Linked DNA regions of Homo sapiens: region 2 is linked to region 1. The links come from fine-mapping of genetic effects on gene expression. A gene starts in region 1. The other region holds a variant in brackets. All regions are shown on one strand. Distances are between the middles of the regions.

The links.
Region 2: its variant is fine-mapped to the expression of ZFP64 in whole blood (INTERVAL, PIP above 0.99).

Annotation. Positions count from the first base shown.
Region 1 is chr20:52,188,633-52,196,972 of GRCh38, forward strand. ZFP64 (ZFP64 zinc finger protein) reads right to left here and starts at 3,147. Exons shown (of 6, transcript NM_018197.3): 1 at 2,959-3,147. The coding sequence starts at 3,004. RefSeq lists enhancers at 2,002-2,858, 3,899-4,028 and silencers at 2,619-2,858, 3,219-3,488.
Region 2 is chr20:52,143,581-52,151,920 of GRCh38, forward strand. ZFP64 (ZFP64 zinc finger protein) reads right to left here. Exons shown (of 6, transcript NM_018197.3): 6 at 7,698-8,340. Among named protein-coding and RNA genes, the nearest start is that of ZFP64, 44 kb to the right of the region's middle. The variant GA/G (reference allele first, on the strand shown) is at 5,126.

The DNA of each region.
Region 1 (8,340 bases):
ACTAATCATATCAAGAATTAATACTATATTAATACCTGGAAAGCACTTAGTGTAGTATTTGGCACTGTATTAGAAGCTACTATATAAATACTTGTTCAATAAAGACATAGCGGGTAGATCATGAGGTCAGGAGAGCGAGACCATCCTGGCTAACATGGTGAAACCCCATCTCTACTAAAAATAAACAAAAAAAATTAGCCCGGCGTGGTGGCACACACCTGTAATCCCAGCTACTAGAGAGGCTGAGGCAAGAGAATTGCTTGAACCCGGAAGGCGCAGGTTGCAGTGAGCTGAGATTGTGCCACTGCACTCCAGCCTGGGCGACAGAGCGAGACTCCGTCTCACATAAAAAAAAAAAGATAACTCGTGTTTATAAGAAAATTTAGAAGAAACTTATAAAGAAGGGGAAAATCACTCAATATTTCCATCTCTGCCTACCATGAATATTATAAAATATTTTTTTCCATTCATTTTCTTTACACTTAAAAGTTGCGTAAGATGGCTCACGCCTGTAACCCAGCACTTTGGGAAGCCGAGATGGGTGGATCACAACAAGAGATCAAGACTATCCTGGCGAACATGGTGAAACCCCGTCTCTACTAAAAATACAAAAATTAGCTGGGTGTGGTGGCACGTGCCAGTAATCCCAGCTACTCAGAAGGCTGAGGCAGGAGAATTGCTTGAACCTGGGACGTGGAGGTTGCAGTGAGCCAAGATCATGCCACTGAACTTCCAGCCTGGTGACAGCGAGACTTCATCTCAAAAAAAAAAAAAATTGCATAAGATCATAATATTGTAAATATTCAGATCATAGTATTGTAAAACTAATCCTTTTCCTAATTTTTTTCCTTTTTTTTTTTGAGATGGAGTTTTGCTCTTGTTGCCCAGGCTGGAGTGCAAGGGCACGATCTCAGCTCACTGCAACCTCCGCCTCCTAGGTTCAAGCGATTCTCCTGCCTCAGCCTCCGGAGTATCTGGGATTACAAGCGCCACCACCACGCCAGGCTAATTTTGAATTTTTAGTAGAAATGGGGTTTCTTCATGTTGGTCAGGCTGGTCTTGAACTCCCGACCTCATGTGATCCGCCCGCCTCAGCCTCCCAAAGTGCTAGGATTACAGGCGTGAGCCACCGTGCCTGGCCCTTTTTCCTAAACATTGCATAAACATTGTGCTATATCATTAAAATCTCTTCATATATATATGATTATTTAATGGCAATACATTATTCCATGGTGTCCATGCGTCATAATCTTCTCAGCAACAATAAGGTATTTACATAATTTCCAATTTTTCCCAAGTTAAATGATACAAGACTACCTTTGTGCATATATGGTTAGATAAAATTATGCCTCATAATTTTCTGAAAATTTGTAAGATATTTACATTATGTCCAATTTTCCCCAGGTCTAGCTAAGACAAGAAATCTCTGTTCAGAAATACAGTTTGGTTGACTTGCTAAGGAGACTGGGCTGAGCACTGTGATAAGCCATCTTGCAGGGATACACTTAAGCACTTTGCAATCAATGGATGGAAGGAAGGAAACCTTTTCTTCTCTGGCAGATACTGAGATACCCATGGAACTAACAAGGAAACAAGGAAGTGAGACATGAAGTAGCTTGCATTGCTGACGATTCCTTAATGATGGAATAGGACTGACACCCAGAATGAAAGGATTTTCATAACAGATAATGTCACTGGTATGTGGAAAGTGCAAAAGTAACGACATAGACCTTCGTTAGAATCTTGACACTGTCGCTTAACAACAGTGACTTTAAGCGTGGGTTTTCTCATCTGAAAAATGGGAGGAGAGGTTTCTAATCCATGGTTTTTGTTTGTTTTTAATTTCTCCAAGAAAAAACACGGGCTTGTTATGAGAATTAAATGGGATGGTGCTCGTACCAGCACAGTCCCCCCTCCCCGCCAGTCCCCCAGCATGTTACCTGCTGGGTTCTTACTGAGGTACACTATTTAAACATGGACATATCTGAGCCCCACCTAGGAGATACTGAGTCATAACAGGGTGGGGTGGGGAGGATGGTGTTTAGGAAAATCTGTGCTTTTCACAGTAATGCAAGGAATACACCGCCAAGTTTGGGACCCAGTGTCTCCCAAACTGTTAACAGTAGCAGCTAACAAGCTGGGAGCTTACTATGTGCCAGATTTTCTGCAAACCCCTGGTAGATGGGTTCTCAAACTTCATGTGCTTCAGAGTTGCCCAGGCAGCTACGAAGGACAGCGGATCCCCAGCCCCACCCCCGAGATTGAATGGGTGGGGCCCAGAAAGCTGTTTTAAAATACACGCTCTCGCTCCCAGGTGGCTGGTTGCACTCAGTCTCTGGACCACACTTTGGGAAACAATGCACCGGGAGAAACCAGGGACTTGAAAAACGCTGATGTCCTCCTCGGTTAAATAAAAACTGAACCCCAAACCCAAATAAAGCGACCACGGCCCCGTTTTCCATTCAGATCTCCACCCTTAATGAGGAAAAGGCTTTGCAATGAGCCGGCAGGACCTCGTGAGACCTGGTGATTCCCCCAATCTCCAGGCTCTAATTTTGAGCCACTGAGGCAGAAGTTTTCCCATCAGTGTTGCCCCGTTTACCCTAGATTCCTCCCTTTCTCCTGCCCGCCCCAAACTCCGCCTGATGGGGCGGGAATGCCCTTAGGGGGTGGCGATTGTCTGAACGGCGTGCCCTCCCCCACTGTTCCCTTCCAAGGGGTCTCGCAAGGCTGGAGAGCGCCCCCGGTCTTGCGCCAGGTCGGGTGCGCCCCCACCCCAAGCCCACTCCGGCGCCCCCTGCACAGCGCGCCCGCCGCGGTCCCCGAGACGCGGCTCCGAGCCGTCACCCCGATTTCGGGGCCCCGGGCCTGCTGGCTGCGTCGCAGACGTGCTTGGGCCCGGGCCCCGGAGCGCGCACTGGGCCCCGGAGCGCGCACTGCTCCCGGAAAAGCACTTACTTTGCACCGAGCCCGCGAAGCTCTCGCCCTCGCTGCTCGCGTTCATGGCCGCAGACTGGGAGGTCCCCGGCCGGCCGGGATGCCAAAGTGGGGGACGCTGATCTACATGGTGCAAGGACTTTTCCTTTTATTTTTCCACACCCCCCACCCTGCCTTCTCCCAACTCTGCGAGGCGGGGAGGACGGATGTAAAGCAAGCTGCACTTCCGCTGCCTAGAGGGCGCTGGCCGGGCCCGGCGCCCCAACCTGGCTTTGCAGCAGCGGCTCCCCGGGGAAGCGGCGGGCGAATCCCGAGGCCCAGGCCCGCGGAGCCCCCCAACGCCCCCGGGGAGCTGGATGGCCACGCGCGTCCCGGCGTGCTGGGCGACCGCGGGTGGCGAGGGATGCGCCCCTGCCCGCACTCTGCGTTCTCCGCGGACGCGATTGGCCTCCCCGGCTCGGGGCGCCTTTTGCACCTGCAACCCCAGGCGTTGGGCCCCCAGCGCGGCCGTGCAGCAGCGCTGCTCCCGGGACGCCTGGGTGGTTTGCGGGGAGACCCACGTGCGGCTGCCGTTGCGGGGTGGGTGCGCGGGGCGCGGCGAGCTCCGGAGAAACCCAGGTTGGGCGTGAGCGCTGGGCAAATCAGCAAAGCGCTGGGCGGGTCCCTTGCCCCGCTAGGGAGACTGAGAGGACCGCGAAGAGGTGGGGTCGTAGCGCGGAGGGACCCCTGCTCCAGGAGCTGCCAACTTTATCGTGCATCGCAGTCGCCTGAAAGGCTTGTTAGAACACACGCTGTTGGGCCCACCCTAGCGTTTCTGCTTCAGTAGGTCTGGGGCGAGGCGTGAGAACGAGCATTTCTAAGTTCCCAGGTGATGCCCCTAGTGTTGGTCGGCGTCCACACTCTGAGGACAGTGACCTCTCTGCTCTGTCCCTCATGTCTTACTACTACTGTCTCCCCCGGGCTCCTGCGTCAGCCCTATTGTCTCTCTGCCGACCCTCCCAAGCCTCAGACCTCTCCCAGCCTCGAGGGATTTGCCCATAGAGTCTGTCCTGCTTCTGAAGGTCAGCATTCAAATTCACACTCAGGGAGGCCATGCTTGGCCTAATCTAATCATTCTAATATTGCAGCCCCCTCCTCCTCCCCCAACCACTCCCTGTCTCCTTCCTGTTTTTTTCTTTTTCTTTTTCTTTTCTTTTCTTTTCTTTTCTTTTCTTTTCTTTTCTTTTCTTTTCTTTTCTTTTCTTTTCTTTCTTTCTCTCTCTCTGCCTCTCTCTCTTTCTCCCTTTCTTTTTTTAGAGAGGGGGTCTTTCTCTGTCTCTCAGGCTGGAAGAGTGGTCGGATCCTAGCTCATTGCAGCCTCCAACTCCTGGGCTCAAGCAATCCCCCCTACAGGCGTGGGCCACCACCCTGGCTCACTTTTTAATTTTTATTTTTGTAGAGATGTTGCCCAGGCTGGTCTCGAATTCCTGGCCTCAAGCGATCCTCCATCAGCCTCCCAAAGTGCTGGGGTTACAGGTGTAAGCCACCATGCCTGGCCTGCTTTGTCCTTAAAAGGTGTTAGATGGAACATATTATGTATCTCGAGTATATCTGCTTAGATATAATTTAGTTGTATATTATCTGTGTTCTCCTCCCCCTTATTTTCAGTAAGTCCCTGTAAAAATGGGGATTAAAAAAATCTCTTTGCTTCACTGATGTAGTCCAGTGACTTGGCTGGTGCCTGACACATAGTAGGCTTAGTAAATATGGCTTGTATAATGAATGGGATTTTCCCTGCTGCTGCCTCTAAGGCTTGGTTTCTGCCTGCAGCAGCTGTTTATTCTCAAGTGTTTGTGAAGTGCCAGGCACTGGGCTAGCTGCTGGAGGTAGACCAGGGAGGCAGTCAACATGAAATAATCAAATCAGTACTGTAAATATATATATATTTAATATATAATATTTAATATATTTAATATATATTTATATTTATGTATATATATATTATATATAAATATATACAATATATATTATATATAAAATATTATATATTATATATTATATATTTATATATATAAAAAATATATATAAAACTTCCTTTTTTTTTTTTAACCTTAAGTTCTGGGATACATGTGCAGAACGTGCAGGTTTGTTACATAAGTATACATGTGCCATGGTGGTTTGCTGCACCTATCAACCCATCACCTAGGTTTTAAGCCCCACATGCATTAGGCATTTGTCCTAATGCTCTCCCTCCCGTTGCCCCCCACCCCCTGACAGGCCCTGGTGTGTGATGTTCCCCTCCTGTGTCCATGTGTTCTCAACATTTTGCTAGTGATAAGGGCTCCAAAGACCATAAAATGGGGCTGTAATAGTGGCTGTAGAACTGGTCATAGCAGGCCTTTCCGAGCAGGTAATATCTGAACAAGGAGCCGGGGAGGATGCAGCCATGTGAGGATGAGGGGGGAGCAATTCCAGCCTGAGGAACTGGTGGGAGCAAAAACCCTGGGGCAGGAATGAGCTAGATGTAACTGGCTGTGGCCTGCCAGTCCCACTGCAGATCACACCACTCTCACCCTGCATTGCCCAGGCAGCTCCACCAGGCTCCTTGCTGTTGTTGCTCCTCCCTCTGCCTGGATTGCTTTCCTGGTCTTTGCAGGACTGGCTATTTTAGGTCATCCAGCATCAAATGAAATGTCGCCTTCCCAGAGAGACCTTTCCTATGTCTTACCTAAAGTATTCACTCTCCCTGCGACTCTGCGACATCACCTTCATGATACCTGTCTAGCTAACATGACCCAGCAGAGCACCGCAGCTTACGGCAATATTTATTTTTTATTGCTTGATGAATGTTTACATATGTGCACACCTGGGAAGTCCCCTTCCAAGACACACATTTCCAGCCCTGGTCGGCTCCCTCATGCACCTTCCCAGCCAATAATACTATTCTGGCCAGGCAAGGTGGTTCATGTCTGTAATCCCAGCACTTTGGGAGGCCGAGGTGGGCGGATCACCTGAGGTCAGGAGTTCTAGACCAGCCTGGCCAATATAGTGAAACCCCATTTTCTTCAGTACAAAAATTAGCCAGGCTTGGTGGCGCACACCTGTAATCCCAGATACTCCAGAGGCTGAAGCAGGAAAATTGTTTGAACCCAGGAGGCGGAGGTTGCAATGAGCTGAGATGGAGCCACTGCACTCCAGCCTGGGTGATGGAGCGAGACTGTCTCAAAAAACTATAAATAAATAAAATAATACTATTCCTACTATCCAATCTTGCAGAGGTCACCATTCTAACTTTTATTGTCACGATTCCTTTTGTTGAGAGCAATATATCTCACATTTGCCTGAAGAGAAGCATCATCTGGAAGGCTCACTAAAGAATGAGTTCTTGGGTTCCAAGCTATGCTTACTGCATCAGAATTTTCTGGGGTAAGACTTGGTAATCTGCAAATATCTCAAAAGTGCCCCAGGTAATTCTTATCATGATGTAAGTCTGGGCCTTACTGGTTTGGTGGTTAAGTGTGTAGGCCCTGGAGTTAGGCTATGCCACTGCCATGCAAATCCTGGAGTTGCTGAACTAGGATTAGTTGCTTAACCTTGAATAGGAAATTCAACTGCTCTGTGTCCCGGTTTTCTGTAGCTTGGAGATAATAGTAGCACCTAGTTCATTAAGCTGTTTTGTAGGAGGAACCAATCAATATCTGTAAAGTGCTTAGAATAGTGCCTGACTCATATAACTCGGCATAAATCCTAGCTATTATTATCTTTTAATTATTTTTGGTTATTATCTGTCTCCCTACCATGTAAGCTCCAGGAGGGCATAGACCTGGCCTATTTTATTTACCTGTATCCTCTGGGGCCTAGAACAGAGCCTGGCACACAGGCATCCTCAGTTCATTTTTTATTGTGAAATGATTTCATGCATGTTTCCATGAGCTCCATTTTAACCTTTTGCTACTATGTCCAGCCAACCTTCTCTATTACACATCTTGACCACTGCAACAGTCTTTTTCTGGTCTGAAAATGTCCTATTTTCATTTCTTATTTTTCTTTCTATACTTTTAAAAAATGTTATTTTTCAACATAAGCTCCATCAAGATCAACACACTCTTATTTATTTATTTAGAGACAGAGTCTCGCTCTGTCACCCAGGCTGGAGTGCAGTGGTGCGATCTTGGCTCACTGCAACCTCCACTTCCCAGGTTCAAGCGATCCTCCCACCTCAGCCTCCTGAGTAGCTGGGATTACCGGTGTGTGCCACCACGCCCAGCTAATTTCTTTGTATTTTTGGTAGAGACGGGGTTTCATCATGTTGGCCAGGCTGGTCTCAAACTCCTGGCCTCAAGGGATCTGCCTACCTTGGCCTCCCAAAGTGCTGGAATTACAGGTGTGAACCACTGCACTTGCCCTATACTTGTTTTTCTTATTGCAAAAGTATTAGAAATTGTTGGTTAGAATTTGAAAAAAAAATACAGGAAAACATAAGAAAATAAAACCCACTTATAATTCACTATGCAGAAATAACATTTTGATTGATGAATTTTTGTGTGTGTGTTGTATGTGTGCATACACACACATATAAATCATATTCATATATTTTATAAAAATGTAATTACAGCTTACATGTTTTTCACCTCCACATGAAATATACATGGCTATCTGAGATCTCACCAACCAGAGATATATACTTATATCTTTATGTACTACATGTCTATATCTTTATAGGCTTTTTTTCTGTAGAAATGTAATAGAATGAACCATATGAATTGCTGATATATTTATTTTTTACTTAAAAATGGTAATTTTATATGGTTCAAACCAATATGTACTCATAACATTAATATTATACTTCTTTCTTTTTTTTCTTGAGATGAAGTCTCACTCTGTCACCCAGGCTGGAGTGCAGTGGTTCAATCTCAGCTCACTGCAACCTCTACCTCCTGGGTTCATGAGATTCTTCTGCCTCAGCTAGGATTACAGGTGCCTGCCACCAGCCTGTTTTTTGTTTTTAGTAGAGTTGGGGTTTCACCATGTTGCCTAGGCTGGTCTTGAACTCCTGACCTCAAGTGATCCGCCTGCCTCAGCCTCCCAAAGTGCTGAGATTACAGGCGTGAGCCACCACTCTCAGCCAATGTTTGTATTTCTATTAGAGACAGGGTTTGTTATGTTGGCCAGGCTGGTCTCGAACACCTGACCTTGTGATCCGCCCGCCTCGGCCTCCTAAAGTGCTGGGATTACAGGTGTGAGCCACCATGCCTGGCCTCAAATTTTTTTAATAATACAATTCCTAATTTATAGCTCAGCACATGGCCTCCTGAAAAGAGACTTTTCCCAGCTTCCTTTGTAGCTACGCATGGCTATATGACTAAATTCTGACAACGTAAATGAAATGTGATGCAGCTTCTGGGAAATATCCTAAAATAGCAG
Region 2 (8,340 bases), 45 kb before region 1:
TAGAGTGCGGTGGCACATGATCACAGCTCACTGCAGCCTCAACCTCCCCAGCTCAAGTGATCCTCTAATCTCAGCCTCTAGAGTAGTTGGGGCTACAGGTGCACACCACCACACCCGGCCAATTTTTTTTTTTATTATTAATAGTATTTGTAGAGACAGGGTCTCCCCTATGCTGCTCAAGCTGGTCTGGAATCCTTGGGCTCATGTGATCCTTTTGCCTTGGCCTCCCAAAGTGCTGAGATTATAGGCGTGAACCACCATGCCTGGCCATTTTATAACTTTGCAAGTTACAGAAATAGATAGTGTTGCAAATAACTCATCCACAGGACTGCAAACAGATTTCGTTTGATGGAACACAGCTAATTACTACTCTGGAGATACTGACCAGTTTTGGATCTGTTGGTGAATTTATTTCAGCATTCCTGATTGCCTATGTAATCATGCATTTGTTAATCCTCCTTTGAGCCTGTTGTGATAGTTTGCTGATTCCCCCTTTAATTAATGAATTAAATACTTGACGTGTTAATCTTATATTTGTAGGACAGTCATGATTTTAACTTAAAAAATTATCTTTTAACACAGGTGAAGGCATAATGGAAAATATATAGCTTTAAATGTTTTTATTACTAAAGACTAAGTGAACTTAATACATGAAATTAGAATAACAAAATAAAATGAAAGAAAAGCAGGGGAAAGAAGTATTAAAATAAAAGCTGAGGCCAGGCATGGTGGCTCACACCTACAATCCCAGCACTTTGGGAGGCCAAGGCGGGCAGATCACGAGGTCAAGAGATCAAGACTATCCTGGTCAACATGGTGAAACCCCGTCTCTACAAAATATACAAAAAAATTAGCTGGGTGTGGTAGCGTGCACCTGTAGTCCCAGCTATTCGGGAGGCTGAGGCAGGAGAATCGCTTGAATTCGAGAGGTGGAGGTTGCAGTGAGCCGAGATCGCGCCACTGCACTCCAGCCTGGTGACAGAGCGAGACTCCGTCTCAAAAAAAAAAAAAAAAAAAAAAAATGCTGAAAGCTGAAATGAATGAAATGGAGGAGGGGTAGAGAAATAAATAAAAGCAAAAGTGCTACTTTTACTTTAATACAAATGACTAAATAAGTAAACCCTTAGCATACTAAGTAGAAGACTAAAAATACAACAATAAAAAAAGAAACCCCAAAACCAGTAGTAACAAGAAAGGTGGTGGACCCCCAAATGCTAAAGATATTAAAATATTTTAAAAAGAAAGTTAAATGGAATCATAGGGCCACGTAATTGAAAATTTAGAGCAGAGTAAATGATGTTTTTTCTTTTGCTAAATATAAACTACTAAAATTGATCCAGATAAGGTATACAACCTGAACAGATCAGTAATTACAGAAAATAATTGGGAAATTTGTTAAGAATGTTACAGTGAAAAAGAGTATCAGCCAAGATAACAGAACAGATAATTTCTGAGATAGTCAAACTATTTCAGGTCACCGAAAAAGAAGAAAAGAGCTCCAGCTTATTTTTAGAGTTGCACAAGCTCCAATTTATTTTTAGAGTTGCATAAGAAACAAGCAAAAATCAGAGATAGCACTAAAAAAGAAAACTAGAGACCAGCTGCATGTATGTGTATACAGTCGTTGCCACTTATCAACAGGGATCCATTCTGAGAAATAGGGCGTAGCCTATGGCTCTTAGGCTAGAAATCCATACAGCACGTGAATGTGCTGAGTACTATAGGTAATGGTAACACAATGGTAAGTACTTGTCTATCTAAATATAACTAAACATAGAAAAGGTACTGTAGCCCAGGCGTGGTGGCTCATGCCTGTAATCCCAGCACTTTGGGAGGCTTAGGTGGGTGGATCACTTGAGCCCAGGAGTTTGAGACCAGCCTGGGCAGAATGGCAACACCCCATCTCTACAAAAAATATGTGGTGGTACATGCCTGTGGTCCCAGCTACTTGGGAGGCTGAGGTGGGAGGATCACCTGAGCCTGGGGAGGTAGAGGCTGCAGTGAGCTGTGATTGTGCCACTGCACTCCAACCTGGGTGATAGAGTAATACCCTTTCTCAAAAACAAAACAAAACAAAACAAAAGTACAGTAAAAGTATGGTATAAAAGATAAAAATATGGTGCACCTGTTTAGGACACTTATCATGAATGGAGCTTGCAGGACTGGAAGTTGCTCTGGGTGAGTCAGTGGGTGAGTGGTGAGTGAATGTGAAGGCCTAGGTCATGACTGTGTACTACTGCAGACCTTATAAACACTGTACACTTAGACTACTCTAAATTTATTAAAAAAGTCTTTCTTCAGTAGTAAATTAAGTATAGCTTATTGTAACTGTTTTACTTTATACATGTATTAATTATATTTTGACTTATCAAAATCTTTTGTAATAACACTCAGCTTAAAACACAAGCATTGTACAACTGTACAAAAATATTCTTTCTTTATATCCTTATTCTATAAGCCTTTTCTATTTTATTTTTTTCTTTTACTTTTTCAACTTAAAAAAAAAACAAACTAAGACACAAACATGCGCATTAGCCTCAGCCTATGCAGGGTCAGGATCATCAAGATATCAGTAGGCAATAGAAATGTTTCAGCTCCTCAGAGATCTAGAACTAGAAATACCATTTGACCCAGCCATCCCATGCTGGGTATATACCCAAAGGGCTATAAATCATGCTGCTATAAAGACACATGCACACATATGTTTATTGCGGCACTATTCATAATAGCAAAGACTTGGAACCAATCCAAATGTCCAACAATGATAGACTGGATTAAGAAAATGTGGCACATATACACCATGGAATACTATGCAGCCATAAAAAATGATGAGTTCATGTCCTTTGTAGGGACATGGATGAAATTGGAAATCATCATTCTCAGTAAACTATCGCAAGGACAAAAAACCAAACACCGCATGTTCTCACTCATAGGTGGGAATTGAACAATGAGAACACATGGACACAGGAAGGGGAACATCACACTCTGGGGACTGTTGTGGGGTGGGGGGAGGGGAGAGGGATAGCATTAGGAGATATACCTAATGCTAAATGACGAGTTAATGGGCGCAGCACACCAGCATGGCACGTGTATACATATGTAACTAACCTGCACATTGTGCACATGTACCCTAAAACTTAAAGTATAATAAAAAAAAGAAATGTTTCAGCTCCATTATTCTTATGAGATCACCATTGTAACATGCAGTCTGTTGTTGACCAAAATGCTCTTATGTAGCACATGAACTAGAGTTGCAAAACTTCCAGATAAGATATTAGAAAACGAAATCCAGCAGTGTTTTGGAAGAATAATTCAACATGACCAAGAGGATTTCTTCCAGGAATGCAAGGTGACTTAACATACCAGGCTATATGCTACACAAATTCACTGTGTCAACATATTTAAGTGCAAAACCCAAATACTTACGGCTAACAATTTTAAGAAGATATTTGATAAAATTCAGCAAGCTACCCTGATAAGTAAAACTGCATCAGTATTTTATATGAACTTATCAAAAGAATGACTATGAAAATATTAAGTCTTCCACTCAAAAACCCTTATTTAACTCCATTGTAAACATTATTCAGTCAAATTATGTAGTCTATTTTCATTATATAAGGTCTGTGTTTCTTTTTTTTTGAGATGGAGTTGCACTCTGTCACCCAGGCTGGAGTGCAGTGGCGCAATTTTGGCTCACTGCAGCCTCCACCTCCTGGGTTCAAGCAATTTCACTCTAAGTGAAAACTGGAGTGGAAGAAAATGACCTAAGTACCATAAAAACCATTATCCAAAGGAGTGGTGTATATTACATTGGAAAATTCTGAAGTTAGAATTAGGGACACAGCAAGGATGCCAGCTGTATCAGCATTGTTTGGAGGTTCTGGCTAAAGCAACAGGACAAGAAAACAAAATAAGTAGTAAAAATATTCTAAAGGAAGAGATGAAACAATCTGAAAATAAAAGACTATATCAGATAATTATAAATCATATTTATCAGAGACCAAGAATTTCTAATAAATACCATTCATTACTGAGAATTTTTCTTTAATATAGACAAATATACCCTATTTTGGCTTTTCTTGATGTTTGCAACAAATGCAAAAATTCCTATTCACAATTATGATAAAATTATGGAATAATAAGAAAACACAGGACCGGGCACCGTGGCTCACACCTGTAATCCCAGCACTTTGGGAGGCCGAGGCAGGCGGATCACTTGAGGCCAGGAGTGCAAGACCAGCCTGGTCCACATGGCGAAACCCCATCTCTACTAAAGATACACACAAAAAAATTAGCCAGGCATGGTGGCAGGCGCCTGTAATCCCAGCTACTCAAGAGGCTGAAGTGGGAGAATCTCTTGAACCCAGGAGGTGGAGGCTGCAGTGAGCCAAAATTGGGTGGAAGACTTAATATTTTCATAGTTGTGCTTTTGATAAGTTCATATAAAATACTGATGCAATTTCAATAAAAATCTCCAAAAGGTTTTCTTTTTTGGTGGGGGTGGTTTAGGTACTGGATAAAATAACAGTTCCTTTGGAAGAATAAATATCTAAGAATTGCTAAGAACATTTTGGAAAATAATAGCTGGGGGAAGCTTTGTAAGTCTAAAAGATTAAGCTTACCTTAATGCTAGTATAATCAAATATGTCATGTTGGCCAGCCAGATCTTCTTTGGGAATCTCAGATCTATAATCTTCCAGAATAAAGAAGTTCTGGAAGTATATTTGTGAACTTTATCTACACGATGGCTTAAATTAGGATTTCAGTTTTCAGGAAAATAATATTTAACAAATGGTCCTGGCATAAGTGGACAGTCAAACCTGTTCATCATAACATATAAATATGAGTTCTTGGCATGAGCTGTAATCCCAGCACTCTGAAAGGCCGAGGTGGGCAGATCACTGGAGGCCAGGAGTTTAAGACGAGCATGGCCAACATGGCGAAATCTCGTCTCTACTAAAAATACAAAAATTAGCCAGGTGTGGTGGCACACGCCTGTGATCCCAGCTACGTGGGAGGCTGAGGCAGGAGAATCACCTGAGCCTGGGAGGCAGAGCAGGTAGTGAGCTGAGATCGCGCCACGGCACTCCAGGCTGGGCGACAGCCAGACTCTGTCTCAAAACAA[GA/G]AAAAAAAAAAAAAAAGAATTCTGGCTGCAGCAAGGAGCCATTGAAAAACAAATAAGCAAGCAGTAAAAACACTAAAGGGAAAACCAGTTTAATCTCAGGGGAAGGATGGACGTTCTTAGAAAACACACGTGCCACAAATGAAGCGACAGAAGAATCTAACTACAGAAAAAGACAGTCATTTTTATATGGTGACAGCCCCACAGGTAAAGTCAAAAGACAATGACAGGAGGGGAAGAAACTCAGCAATGTGTGACTGATGTCGGGTTAATGTCCCCAACTTCCCAACAACCAAAAGGAGGGAGTAAGAGTTCTAAGTTCATAGAAGAGAGAAGCACACATGGTCAACCAGCCCTATGCAGAGACGTCTCAGAAAACGCAGACCACAGCACCAGCTAGGGGAGTGCACAAAGGCCAGATAACCATTTTCACGCAGCAGAGTGATAAAACTTCCAAAGGTAGTTGAGCTCACATCAGGGATGAGACTATCATTGTGAAAATTAATCCGTATTTATGCAAGTACAAACTATGGAAACTCCGTGAAACTTACACTTTTGAATCTACTTACAGAAAAAAAAAAAAAAAAAGCTGAATATGAGAGTTTACTGGGGCAGTCGTAATGGCAAAAATATTCCCCAAACAACCTGAAGAATCATAATAGCAAGATGACGGACTAAAGCCTGGCATGTCTCTAACACTTATTTAAAAAAACTAGGTCTAGTTTTGTTGACCCACAGGACTGTCAATAAATGGAATAATCAAAGCAAGTTGCAGAGAAATGTACAGAGTATGATACAATTACTATAGAACTAGGAAAAACCTTTTCTATGTTATCTTTTGAGTCTACGTATATTGGTAAGAACACAGAGCACCTAACATTACTTACCTTGGGTGGGGTGAGAATACGGAGGGGCTGGAAGTTGTTGGCTTGGTGTTTGTACAATTCTGTGTATAATTTATTCCAAAGAGTAAGTTTTACTGTTTTGTTTGTAAAAAGACAAAACAACCAACAAATCAAATATGCATGTGTGTACATCTCTATGCATGCATGTGTATGTATGTATGTATGTGTATGTATTATATATGGAAGGCAGCTGGTAGGTAGAGATCTAAGGATACAAAAGGAAATATAGAATATAAAAAATATTATGCTTAATTAAACTACAACTTCATAACTGGAGTAGAAAACATATATACGTAAGCATAAAAAAAGATTGATAGGGGCCAGGTACGGTGGCTCACACCTGTAATCCCAGCACTTTGGGAGACCGAGGTGGGTGGATCACAAGGTCAGGAGATCGAGACCATCCTGGCTACGGTGAAACCCTGTCTCTACTAAAAATACAAAAAATTAGCCGGACTTGGTTGCGGGTGCCTAGAGTCCCAGCTACTCAGGAGGCTGAGGCAGGAGAATGGTGTGAACCCGGGAGGCGGAGCTTGTAGTGAGCTGAGATTGCGCCACTGCACTCCAGCCTGGGCAACAGAGTGAGACTCCACCTCAAAAAAAAAAAAAAGACTGATAGGAAGTCCATCAAAATGGTTACAATCTGTATAGTTTATATCTGGACAGTAAGATTATTAGTAACTTCTATTTTTTTCCTAGTAATATTCTGTTTTTCATATTTTCTATCTTGAATACACATTATAATCAGGAAAAAATCCTTTATGGTTGAAAAAAGTGGGAAAAGAGAAAGACATAGGAAATAGGACCATGACAATGGAAGTTTCCCAGCTGAAATTCAAAAGCAGAACAGTTTTTCTAAAGGGCTGTAAGCAATAAGTTTAAAGTGACAAAATTATTTAAATCACTAACATTGTACACTGCAAGCCTTTTCTGTTTCTTACCAAAAACATAGTTAATAACTCACTATTATCATTGATGATAGGAAAATAAAGAAATTATGGCAAATATAGCAAGTCATCAAAATTGTGTCCAACTATTACAGATCAAAGAAAGAAGAATAAAAGTGGTAGAAATGTATCTAAGTATTCTCATAATATTCTAAATATGCTTCTGTCCCAAGAGTAACCTCCCCTCCTCACCAATCCTTGCTGACAGCAGAAATGAGTGCTATTACAACCTTACAGAATGGCTTAAGGTACAAATATGGATGATTCTAGCTTGCTCTCTGGCACCACCTACTGATCAAACAGCATTTCAATGTAAAACAACACAATCTGAATTTTCCTCTTCTCAATACAACCTATGCTTTGGAAAAAATCTAGGTACTCTCTCAGTCCACTCATCTGGATTCTGCACAGATATTAACATCTCAAAAATGGTATTCTAGAAAATTCTGTCTTGTTAGTAGGAACTTTGATCATTTTTGTGTCTAAACAGAAATGCCAGGATTGTCAGTCTGAAGTTTCAAAATGAAAACAACAGTGGGATGGATCACTTTATCACTTTAGGTACCACATCTATTTAATGTGACTGTGGAGGAGGTAAGATGATTGTGTGACGTTTATGAAAGGACTAAAAACCTTTGCTGCTTCAGTTTGTTTTTGATTAATGACTCACGCCCCATCATTCCCAAATCCCACCTTGGCTCTAAAGAATCATTAACATTCAGTATATTTTAATCAGATATCAATTTATTATGGAACCATTCATTTTCTGCTCATTAGCACTAAACATTTTTTTTTGGGTCAAGTATCCATGTCATATTATGTAGAAAATGGTCCTTCATGCCAACAGACTTACATGTATAAAACATGAACACCCCCAAACTCTGGGGAGTATTCCAGAATGGGGCAAAAGAGAGGCTGGGAAGTACCATTTACTACACAAATGTAATAAGATGGACAGAAACCTTTATTAGAGTTGGAAAATCAAGTTGGAAACAAACACATGAATTCACTACTTAATGCATTTAATTCCAACCCCTCATTGGAATCATCTTGGTAACATTTAAGATTCTACAACAGTTATAATGCGACGATTCAGAGGTGGTCTCAAAGTTGTTACAGTGTTAAAAAAATTATAGTAAGCAGTATAAAATTACAATTTATTATGGGGCCAGGGGGATTCACAACCATCCTTAAAAACATTAAGAGCAAACCACGGCCAGGCATGGTGGCTCACACCTGTAATCCCAGCACTTTGGGAGGCTGAGGTGGGCAGATCACTTGAGGTCAGGAGTTCAACATGATGAAACCCCGTCTCTACTAAATATACAAAAATTAGCCAGTCATGATGTCGTACACCTGTGGTCC